Linked DNA regions of Homo sapiens. The protein of the gene in region 2 purifies or fractionates together with the protein of the main gene of each other region. This does not show direct contact. Each region holds a gene or a part of one and is shown on either strand. Other genes may lie near its edges.

The links.
Region 1: the proteins of RUFY3 (region 2) and MTG2 purify together in Homo sapiens (affinity purification with mass spectrometry; one large-scale study listed by BioGRID and IntAct). This does not show direct contact.
Region 3: the proteins of RUFY3 (region 2) and MELK purify together in Homo sapiens (affinity purification with mass spectrometry; one large-scale study listed by BioGRID and IntAct). This does not show direct contact.

What each region holds. Positions count from the first base shown.
Region 1 is NC_000020.11:62,199,913-62,204,103, forward strand, and holds the end of MTG2 (mitochondrial ribosome-associated GTPase 2), read left to right. Parts: intron 1-770; coding exon 771-1,165; 3' UTR 1,166-3,171; coding exon of another isoform or gene 3,172-3,329; 3' UTR 3,330-3,656; downstream 3,657-4,191. UniProt on the Homo sapiens protein: Plays a role in the regulation of the mitochondrial ribosome assembly and of translational activity. Displays GTPase activity. Involved in the ribosome maturation process.
Region 2 is NC_000004.12:70,763,407-70,767,056, reverse strand, and holds part of RUFY3 (protein RUFY3), read right to left. Parts: intron 3,506-3,650; coding exon 3,388-3,505; intron 2,583-3,387; coding exon 2,481-2,582; intron 1-2,480. UniProt on the Homo sapiens protein: ARL8 effector that promotes the coupling of endolysosomes to dynein-dynactin for retrograde transport along microtubules. Acts by binding both GTP-bound ARL8 and dynein-dynactin.
Region 3 is NC_000009.12:36,670,264-36,673,913, reverse strand, and holds part of MELK (maternal embryonic leucine zipper kinase), read right to left. Parts: intron 2,917-3,650; coding exon 2,748-2,916; intron 1-2,747. UniProt on the Homo sapiens protein: Serine/threonine-protein kinase involved in various processes such as cell cycle regulation, self-renewal of stem cells, apoptosis and splicing regulation. Has a broad substrate specificity; phosphorylates BCL2L14, CDC25B, MAP3K5/ASK1 and ZNF622.

The DNA.
Region 1 (4,191 bases), on a different chromosome or scaffold from region 2:
TCTCGAACTCCTGATCTCAAGTGATCTGCCCCCCGCCCCACCTTGGTCTCCCAAAGTGTTGGGATTACAGGCGTGAGCTACTGCACCTGGCCCTAATTTAAACAATTTTCATCAGCCTGTTCTCTATGAAAATCAGGTTCCCACCCCATCCCCTAGGAATCTGTCAGTTACAGTTCAGAAACCTGCATTGAAATTCCAGCCGAGGACAGTATTTCTTCCCACTCTATTTGTCCCCTCTCATCTGTGGAAGCTCAGCAGCATCACAACACGTGACTTAAAAGCTTTCCTTGTGCCGTTTGAGAGAATAAAACTTTTTCCCAGAAGACAATACACCCATTAAAAATAGTAAGCCTGCTGGTAAGGTTATTTGGATGGCACTTTATATCTGCAGAGTACTCTACATGTAAATTTCTATCAGTAATCAAATGATTAGTAGAGTACAGGCAGCCATTTTCCTCTTTTTTGAATCCTATTAGAAGCAGAAAGAGAAGGTATGAAATGTACTCTACTAGATAGATCCATCGCCACGCTGGTCTCCCAAACATCTCCAAGCATTGAATTCCTCAGGTGTCAGTTGGCCCAGTGAATCACCCAGGTGCTAAATCAAATGGCTTCAGTTCAAGGCGTTCCTTGAAAGGAAAGTGTTAGAACTCAGGAAATCCGCCTTCGCAGTGGGCTCCAGGCCTTCTCTCCCAGGCTCGAGGTGGAAGGCGCTCTTGGGTGCTGGGTGTGCCAAGTGGTCACCTCGTGTGCCCCTGTCTTCCCTGCAGTGGCCGACATCCCCGGCATCATACGAGGCGCCCACCAGAACAGGGGTCTGGGGTCCGCCTTCCTCAGGCACATCGAGCGCTGCCGCTTTCTCTTGTTCGTGGTGGATCTTTCTCAGCCTGAGCCGTGGACTCAAGTTGACGATTTAAAATATGAACTGGAGATGTATGAAAAGGGCCTGTCTGCGAGGCCCCACGCAATCGTCGCAAACAAGATTGACCTCCCTGAAGCCCAAGCCAATCTGTCCCAGCTCCGGGATCACTTGGGACAGGAGGTCATCGTGCTGTCGGCGTTGACCGGCGAGAACCTGGAGCAGCTGCTGTTGCACCTGAAGGTGCTGTATGACGCCTACGCGGAGGCCGAGCTGGGCCAGGGCCGCCAGCCGCTCAGGTGGTAGCCACGCCAGAGCGGGGTCGCCTCTGGGCCTCTGTCTGAGCAAACCTGGGTGTGAATTCGGTGGTTTTGAATGCATAAAGTGCCTTGTGGACACGGGGGAGTTGTGGTGCTTCTGGGTCTCTGGGCCCCGCCTGCTGGCCTGAGATGCCCTCATGTTGGGAAGCATTCCGTGCCCCCTACCCCGCCTGCCCTCCGTATTTCCTGCACCTGTCAGCCTGCACCGACTGATGAGCCAGTTGCTCATTTGTGCTGATTAACACCCCTAATAAGGGGTTGGGGTGCCCATAACGGGGTGGCCCTGCCGCTGACTCAGGTCTCCGCCATGCACGCGTGGACTCTCGGATGAGCTCAGCAGAACCGCACAGCCAGAGCCCCAGGTCAGAAGTGCAGACCAGGGTTCTCAGCACAGTGCCCGTCGTGCTTCCATGGCTTGCTACGGAGAGAGACCTCTGGATCCACACTGGGGCTGCGTCTGGCCCGTTGTCCAGCAGCCCTGCGGTACCGCAAGCCCAGGCACCAGTGTCTCGGGGGGCCTCACTGCTGCGCAAGGGGTGGGGCCGAGGATGCAAGTCCAGGCAGAGCGGCGCAGGCAGCTGTGAGCTTTTCTCCATCAGCCGTCTGAGAAGAGCAGTGAGGCCAGCTGCTTCCTGTCCTTCAGAACACTTCTCTGTGCTCAGTGGGAGCCAGGAAGCCTCAGGCTTCACGACTGAATGCACCCAATATCCGACCTGGCTGCGTGTTTCTGGCTGGGCTGCCGTGTGCACAGCAAGTTAACTAGAGGGGCTGTGGGCCATGGAACTGTCAGCGTTATTCTCAGAAGGCGGCCGTGGCATGGGCAGGGTATAGTGAGGAGTGGAAGGAGACGTGTGCCTGGTAATATGGGGCGGAATTTCCACTCAGCTCCATTTGCTGGGGATTTAAAGAGAACCCTTGTGCTACGCCAGGCAGTTACCGAGCCGAAGGGAGATGATGGGCCTTCGCCCCTCAGTGGGATGGCAGCTGAGGGGGCCCTGCATTTGACCGTCGAGACTGCAGCAGCGCCTTTCCTGTCTGTGGTTTAAGTCTTTGCAGTCAAGTACTGATGCATCCAAGCCAGGCCCATGCCTGGTGTCTCCCTGACTGCAGAGGAGCCCCAGGGCAAGGACAGCTCAGCTGCTGGCAGCCTGCCTGGCCCATAGACATCCCCCAAGTAGTCTCAGGCCTCTGACATGTCCCTGAGGGGCCCCTAAGAAAGAAAGTGGAGGGGACACTCCAGAGGCTGTCGTGGGAGGATCATGTGAGCCTGGGAGGTCAAGGCTGCAGTGAGCCGTGATTGCACCACTGCACTCCAGCCTGAGTGACAGAGCGAGACCCTGTCTCAAAAAACAAACAAACAAACAAACAAAAACAGAACATTCTGGGCACGGTGGCTCATGCCTGTAGTCCCAGCACTTTGGGAGGCCGAGGCTGGTGGATCACAAGGTCAGGAGATTGAGACCATCCTGGCTAACACAGTGAAACCCCGTCTCTACTAAAAATACAAAAAAATTAGCCAGGCGTGGTGGCGGTCACCTGTAGTCCCAGCTACTCGGGAGGCTGAAGCAGGAGAATGGCGTGAACCTGGGAGGCGGAGCTTGCAGTGAGCCGAGATCACACCACTGCACTCCAGCCTGAGCGACAGAGCAAGACTCCATCTCAAAAAAAAAAAAAAAGTGGAGGGGACAAAGAAGCAGAGAAGGATGATCAGAAGGGGACCCCCAGCCCTTGGAGGAGAGACGGCAGCCTCAGGTGAGATGAGCCGCAAGGGTCCGGGGCCGCGTCTCTGCACGCTGGGGTGGGGCGCGCTTTGCACAGCAGGCCGGTGCCTGGGCTTTCAGGAGCAATTCCGTTTTGATCTCACATCAAATCTGCAGCTAGAACATGACAGTCCTTTTACCCGAAGCTTTATTTTAATGTCTTATAATTTCAAAGGTCCTTCTATCCTAGAAACCAGAGATGGGTTTTGCATCTATTTGCTTTTTCTTTCAGGCCGCCACAAAGGATTTTGTGGAGTCGCCCCAGGCCTGACGGCGTTAATTATCCCTGGCTTTCATCTTGATGCTCTTGCAGGGGAGGCTCAAGATGCCTTGTGGCTCGACCCCTGCACGGAGCCCCCAGCCCAGCCTCCCCGTGGGTTGAAACCTTGATCTGGGCCTGACTGTGGCTGCTCTGGGGACATGCCCTCGTCCTTTGCTGAAGCTGAGGCTCCAGAGGGGGAGTCACTGCCACGAAGGTTGCCCAGAACTTTCCTTGCTGCAAAAAGCCCCAAGACTTCTCCCTGCCACACACACAGCTTTTGCCATCGCGTTCTAAAAGCTGACAGCTTTCTCTCCAACACTGTTCTCCCTGAGTAGGGTAAAGCTACACTTGGCTTCCCCAGTTTCCTGTTTCCTGCCTAGAAACAAATTTTTGTCAGTCTGCTTTTCAAATGGGATATATGATTCACATACCATAAAATTCACCACTTTATATAATTCAGTGGTTTTTTTGTATGTTCAGAAGGTTGTGCAACTGTCAAACTGCAAATTCCAGAACGTTTTCATCACCCCGAAAACAGACCCTGTGCCCGTTAGCGTGAACCCGCCTTCCCCCTCCCCCGGGCACCCACCCGTCTACCTTCTGTCCCCAGGGACCTGCCTTCCAGACAGATCCTGTAATTGGAGTGTACACTATGTGGCCGTCTGTGCGGGTCTTTAGTAGCCATGCCTGAGGCGGCCGACACCGCAGTCTTTAGTTACGGAAGGGACCGCGGGTGCAGGCCAACCCCCCCACAGTCAGCATGTGTGGGCTGCCTTGGACACAGGGTCTCTGTGTATCCCCAGCAGCCTCAGAACACCTGACCCAGAGACGGCGTCAGTAAGCGCTGGCAGGTGCACGGAGGATGGCGCTGGCATGAGGAGCCTTCAGGCTGCTCCTAGTTTTAAACTATTTTTACTTTTGTTTTTATTTTTTTAAGACAGAGTCTCACTCTTTCGCCCAGGCTAGAGTGCAGTGGTGCGATCTCGGCTC
Region 2 (3,650 bases):
ATGCATATTACTAAGTGAAAGGTGCCAGTCTGAAAAGGCCATATACTCTATGATTCCCACTACATGACATTCTGGAAAAGGAAAAACCACAGAGACAGTAAACCCCTGGTAACAACAGTACAATCACAGTACGATCAGTGGTTATTAGGGGTTGGAGGACAGAGAGATGAATAGGTGGAGCACAGAGGATTTTTTAGGGCCATGAAACTATTTTGTATGGTACTATAATGACATATGGATACATATCATTATACATCTGTCAAAATCCATAAAACATACAATACCAAGAGTAAACCTTAATGTGAACTATGAACTTTGGGAGATAATGATGTGTCAATGTAGGTTCATCAATTGTAACAAATGTACCACTCCTGTGGGATGTTGATAATGAGGGAGGTTGTACAGGGGGGAAGGGTATGTATGAAAAATATCTGTACCTTCTACTCAATATTGCTATAAATTTAAAACCACTCTAAAAAATAGTCTTTTAGATTTTTTAAAAAAATGGAAACAGGCGGGTGCGGTGGCTCACGCCTGTAAACCCCACACTTTGGGAGGCTGAGGCAGGTGGATCACTTGAGGTCAGGAGTTGAAGACCAGCCTGGCCAACGTGGTGAAACCCTGTCTGTACTAAAAATACAAAAATTAGCCAGGTGTGGTGGTGCATGCCTATAGTCCCATCTACTCGGGAGGCTGAGGCAGGAGAATCGATTGAACCTGGGAGGTGGAAGCTGCAGTGAGCCGTGATTGCACCACTGCACTCCAACCTGGGTGACAGAGCGCGAGTCTCTTAAAGCAAAACAAAACAAAACACGAAAACCCAGTGACCTGAATTATTCATTTTCAGTCAATTTGACATCATGATTAAAACAACACTGCAATCAATTTGTTTTCAACAAGTTACCTGGGGGTAAAGGTCAACCTCAATCACTGTTAACAATCAATATAATTCACTGATATTAGTTCCTTATTTCTTTTCTGATTCACTATAAAAGATATTAATAGGCTGGGCTCACGCCTGTAATCCCAGCACTTTGGGAGGCCAAGGTGGGTGGATCACGAGATCAAGAGATCGAGACCATCCTGGCCAACACGGTGAAACCCCGTCTCTACTAAAAATACAAAAATTAGCTGGGTGTGGTGGTGTGCGCCTGTAGTCCCAGCTACTCAGGAGGCTGTGGCAGGAGAATCGCTTGAACCCGGGAGGCGGAGGTGGCAGTGAGTGGAGATAGCGCCACTGCACTACAGCCTACAGCCTGGTGACAGAGTGAGACTCTGTCTCAAAAAAAAAAAAAAAAGATATTAACAAATGACAAAATAGCACAAAAACAGCAAGTGAATGAGCTGCAAATTTACTGTTTCTCTCAAAAACTGATCACATGCTATTTTTGTTCTTTGATAGCCTCTGAAGGAAACTGAGTAGAACTGGAATGAACAAGGTTCTTTGACAGTTTATTGTCCCAAAAGCCTAACCTTATGAACTGTTCAGAAGTGGAATATGGCTGAATTCCAACATTCACACATTTCCAAATCTCAGCTAACTGTTAGTTCCATGAACTTTCACAAAAAACACATCTATCTGTGTAATCACTATCATGATCAGGAAAGAGAACAGTACTGAAATCCTAGAAATCGGATTCTTTCTCTCTTCCAATCTCTACCCCCACCTCTTCAAGGTAACTATTATCCTGATTTCTATCACCATAGATTGATTTTACCTAGTTTTGACCTTTATACAATGGAATCATATAATAAAGACGGATAAAATAATGTTGTTTTGCCTCTCCCAGTTGTATCTATGATCTACTGGAAGATTTTGTGATTTTACAAATATATATATATATATACACATTTTTTTTTTTTTTTTTTGAGACAGAGTCTCACTCTGTCGCCCGGGCTGAAGAGTGGTGGCACGCTCTCGGATCACTGCAGCTTCTACTTCCCAGGTCCAAGCGATTCTCGTGCCTCAGCCGCCCAAGTAGCTGGGATTACAGGTGTCCACCGCCACGCCCGGCTAATTTTTATATTTTTTTAGTAGAGATAGGGTTTCGACATATTGACCAGGCTGGTCTCAGACTCCTGGCCTCAAGTGGTCTGCCCACCTTGGCCTCCCGAAATGCTGGGATTACAGGCGTGAACCACTGCACCCGTCCAATTTTGTGCTATATTTGAATTTAATGCTACATGTCAAGTTCTTGTCTTATTGAGCCTGGGCACATGCTAAGGTGCCTTCTGTTTTCTAGAGGTAAGTCTTGGCCTGCCTTGGAAAGGACCAATATATGCCACAGTGACAGACAGAACACACATAACATAAATCATCCATTTGGGAGGATATGTGTGTGAGGTATGAGAGAAAGTATCAGTGAAGCTGTTATGAATCAAATGTTTCTGATCTACAAAAATAGTGAACTTATATGGTTTGACTTTATACGATGTAGAACATACCAAGGAAAGAAGAAAGTTCAAGAAGGTGTTCATACCTGAGAAGTTCTTTCTTATTGATCAAAGCTTTCATATATTCTGAAAGTTTCTTTTGCATTAATGCCAAACGAAGCCAGGCTCTTCCTCTACCTACTGGTGTCCTACAAAAACACAGAAATCAAACAACTGAAAACATAAGCACCAGAAGCAAAGGCTACAGTAGAATCAGTTCACTTATTCTTGCTAATGGTATTCCAGTGTAACAAGCACACTGAGGTGCTCCTCAGGACCTCTCCCAGTACATTCCCATGCAAGGAATTTTTGTGTGTGGGCTAATGTGACCCGGAACAAATGCTTTCAAAAAGAATTACTGAATGTAACTACAATTTGAAGACACAGCCTCTGGGAGACCCAACTAAAAATGTTCCATCAGATCAATAATAGCAAATCCTTATAAATTCAGTGTGGATTATATAAATGTCCAAAGCATGAATGTGGACACAGGCAATCTAGGCCTCTGTCTGATTAAAATTAAACCAGTCTCATTTGGGAAGGTGGTCACTACTTTATAGTTCTAAGGCAGGCTACAGTCACTAGCTCTTCAGGTTAATTTGACAGCTGTTTTAATCTTGACTCTCAAACCCACTGAATACCTTTTTTCCCTAAGTCAAGTACAGCATGCCACCCCCTTAGATATGATTCTCCCAAGTGCTTTAAAAAATAAGCAAATGTTTGGCATTTCAACAAAAAGACAATCTCTCTTAGATGAATAATTATCCCTCAAGAGCACATTTTTCTCAATATTCTGTATACCAATTCTCTCCTGTCAGCACCTATTCATGACATCATGCATTTTGGATTGTTATAAAATAAATTATTCGTACATAATTGTCTTTAGTCTTGCTCTTCAAGGGATAGTTAATAAGAATGCTGTTCCTGAGAAATGGAATTCAACCTTAGACTTACTTAAGTCCTGGAAGATCTTTAACACTTGCTGTTATCTCTGCGGCTTCTGGAACAAGCTTTTCTACCAGTTCTAGAGGCCCCCAGAAGGATTTATTTTGTCCGAGAAAAGTTTTTTTAGCTAAGGCAACAAAAATAAAGCAGTATTTTAATATTCTTTACAACATAAGCGCACTCTCAATACACACACACATACACACACAACTTTTCAGGAAACCAATCCTAGGTTATAAGATGGTTTTGGATTCATTCATGCTTTTAGAATA
Region 3 (3,650 bases), on a different chromosome or scaffold from region 2:
TAAATATGTATTTGTTCCCAACTGATTTCGAAAACATAATTAACAACAACAACAAAAAAACCCTAATGATATAAAGGTTTCCTTTTAAATAAATTTGAGTTTTAAAAAATTATCTTGATTGTGGCAATGGTTTCACAGATGTTATATATAATGCCAAAGCATATTAATTGTACTTTAAAATATGCACAGTTGGCCGGGTGTAGTGGCTCATGACTGTAATCCCAGCACTTTGGGAAGCCAAGGCAGGAGGATTACTTGGGCTCAGGAGTTCAAGACCAGCCTGGGTAACATAGTGAGACCCTGTCTCTGCAAAAAAAATTAAGAATTAGCCAAGTGTGGTAGCACGCATCCCAGCTACTCAGGAAGCTGAGGCAGGAGGATGACTTGAGCCCAGAAGGTTGAGGCTGCAGTGAGCTATGATCATGCCATTGCACCACAGCCTGGGCAGCAGAGCAAGACTCTGCCTCAAAAAATTAACAACAAATAAAATAAAATAAAATATGTGCAAGTTTATTATATGTCAGTTATATCTCTATAAATCCATTTGTTAAAGGAGAGTCAACATAATGAAAATACCAGATAAATAATAGTGCACCCAATACACCCATAGAGCAAATGTCGTGAAACTGAGTGTTAACGAAGGGACCCTCTCTTTCTTGGTTCCTGATCCAGCACTCTTTTCACCAAACTAAATTGGCTCTGTTAAGATGATATTAATAATAAACTGAACACCTTCAAATCACAATATATTACTGCTTTGGTAAAATAAAGAATGAATCCTAATTTATCTACTTAAATTTTGGATTTTTTATAGACTGCTTCCTAAAAGAGGACATAACTACATATGATTTGCTATCTTAAAAAACTAAGGTATTATTTCTACTATCCTTGCAACTCTTCCGGTAAGTGTATAGTTTTTAGTACAGTATTTGAAGTAGGTGAAAAAAAATAAGGTTAATTTCCCAAAGAAAGTCCTTCAGTTTTGCAAAAACTTAAAAGCATTAAAAAGTGTTAATGATCTAAAGTTAAAGTTTTCAATCTTAGGACTGTGCTAATTAGGACCATGGGTCTATACATGGGTGGTAAAATGCTCAACACTGATAGTAATCCTTGACATTGGAAACATGTCACCTTATACTCATAAAGCATTTAATATGCCATGTAGCATCCCATATGTAGAGTCTTGTTTCTACATCTCAGCCGTGTGAGGTTGCCAGGGTAGGCATTATTTCCAGATTTTACAAATGAAGACACTGAGGAGATCAGGAATAAAATGATTTATCAAAGCTATACAGCACAAAGCTGGAGCCAGAACCCAGGTCTTCTCATTCCCAATCCTGTGGTTTTTCTCCTACATTCTGGAAGTACTGGAGAACTACCTAGAAAGCCAACTAACACCACAGTAGTTTCTATTGAAAAATGCATTCAGGTTCCAAAATATTTACATAACTGACCATTTTTAGAACATTATCCGTTAGTATTTGGTAACTGCTTAGCTTCTCAATAATGTGTATATATGTGGTTGAACTAGTTTCCTTAATTTTATTTAACATTTTTCAGTGCAATGGTACTATGGTTTTTTTAAATCTCAGTGTCGGTGCTTGAAATACTTAACTATCTCCAACCAGAGAAATTTCAGAACAAAAGGATAAAATATGCCTAATACACAGCCATATGTAACGTCTCAGCACACTACAAAAGTTCAAGGTAATGACTGCTAGTGGATAACTCCTATCTTCTTCCACTTTAAGACAGAACAGAAATGAGATCACAGAACATTCTCCTCTAAAACACCCTTCTGCCCAAAAGCTCAGCATTTTCCTTCCCTCAAACCGCCCAGATTTGCTCATTACGAGAGTCTCAGTGCAAAAACTAAACATAGACCCAGTCCCCAAATGATGGGCACACTACCATCTTCTCCCCTGCTTGGGCCCACACCTCTTGGAATGTGTTTTTACTATAGCACTGAGCCCAGTGTTTCAGAACAACATCCCAGCCTGTTTTCACAGCCAGCCTAAGAGTTCCTCAAGGAATGGGCTGTCTCATTCGTCCCTTTACCTCTTAATTACTCCCCTTCCACCAAACAAACATGTATTCATCAGATGTTTGAATGAATGCTCAGAGAGAATCCAAGAGAATAAAAAGTACTTTATATCAACTAACAGCTTATTTTTCCTTTCCTTCCTTGACTAAATATATTGTCCACACCAGTGACACATTAACCCTTTTAAAGCATACTGGGTCTATTAAATAAGATCCACACCTTCTTAGCCAGGCCTTGAGGCCCTTCCGGCCTACCTTCCCCGCTTGTCACTCACTATTTTCCTGACACACACCACACTCAAAGTTCCAATTATCTTCCCATGCATTCAAATATTTCATGAGGGCCTACAAAGTATCCATGAATCAGGGACACAACTGAGCTCAAGTCCCCCTCCTTAAGGCAGCTCTCAGCTCTCCATCTGTGCCCCCTGCTTCCTCACCTCCATGTTGCCCCTGTGACTAATCCCTCCACCTGTTCTTGAATATTTGAATGATAGCTGTTTGCTCCTTGAAGGGAGTGACTGTATCTATTTACTGACTGCACAGTAACATGCAGATTTTAGTTGCTCAAAAAACATATATTAACTAAGTGAATAAATACTCAAATAAAAAACACTAATCAATTCATTCAGCACCTTAAAAAAAAAAGGCAGTCCATTAGCAGTCAGCTTCTGCTCCATATGAAAGAATTCCAGCCTGCTTACCTTTAGTCTTCTGGGCCCGTCTCTGGCAGAACCCTTCCTTTTGCTCCTGGTGAGCACAGTGATAACCTTATCCAACCCCCTTTCAAGGCTCCCAAACACTTTGGCTCCCTTTCTTTTTGGAGTCTCCTCCATATGTGCTTGGTTGAGATCCAATTCCACTGAGCGGCACCTGAAACAAAACATAAAACAAGGCACAAGTAGAGCTGGGCCTCCGGCCTGTGGGGTCCACAAGGGTGAACTTTTGTCCCTTCATACACATTAGGATGCCTCACTCAGGTATGCCAGGGCCAGATCACCTCTCTCTTCCTCAGGAAGCACCAAAGCCATCTCCCCCTGGACAGGAGCTGTCACACTTCTACCAGGCAACTGCCACTCAGCAAAACTATTTATCCCCTTCCTTTTTAAAAAAGGATATATATATCCTTTTTTCATATATATAGAAAAGTTCAAAGAAGAGTACAATGAACACCGGTATATCCTCCTAGATTCAACAATTGTTCATATTTTGCCACATTTGCTTTCTATTTGGATATAGATAATATATTAATGTACATATGTATATAGATATACACTGATATATATACATCAATGTATATATCTATATATACACATAAATTTAATGTATGTAGATAATACATTAAATTTACTTATTTGCTAAGCCATCTGAAAGTAACTCATCTGAACATATCATGACACTTTACTCTGAAACACTTCAGTATACATCTCCAATGAATAAGGATGTTGTCTTCCATAAAGACAACACCATAAAGTGTGCTGAGAAGTTTACGTTACATATGGCTGTTTATTAGGCATATTTTATCCTTTTGTTCTGAAATTTTTCTGGTTGGAGATAGTTAAGTATTTCAAGCACTGACACTGAGATTTAAAAAAACCATAGTACCA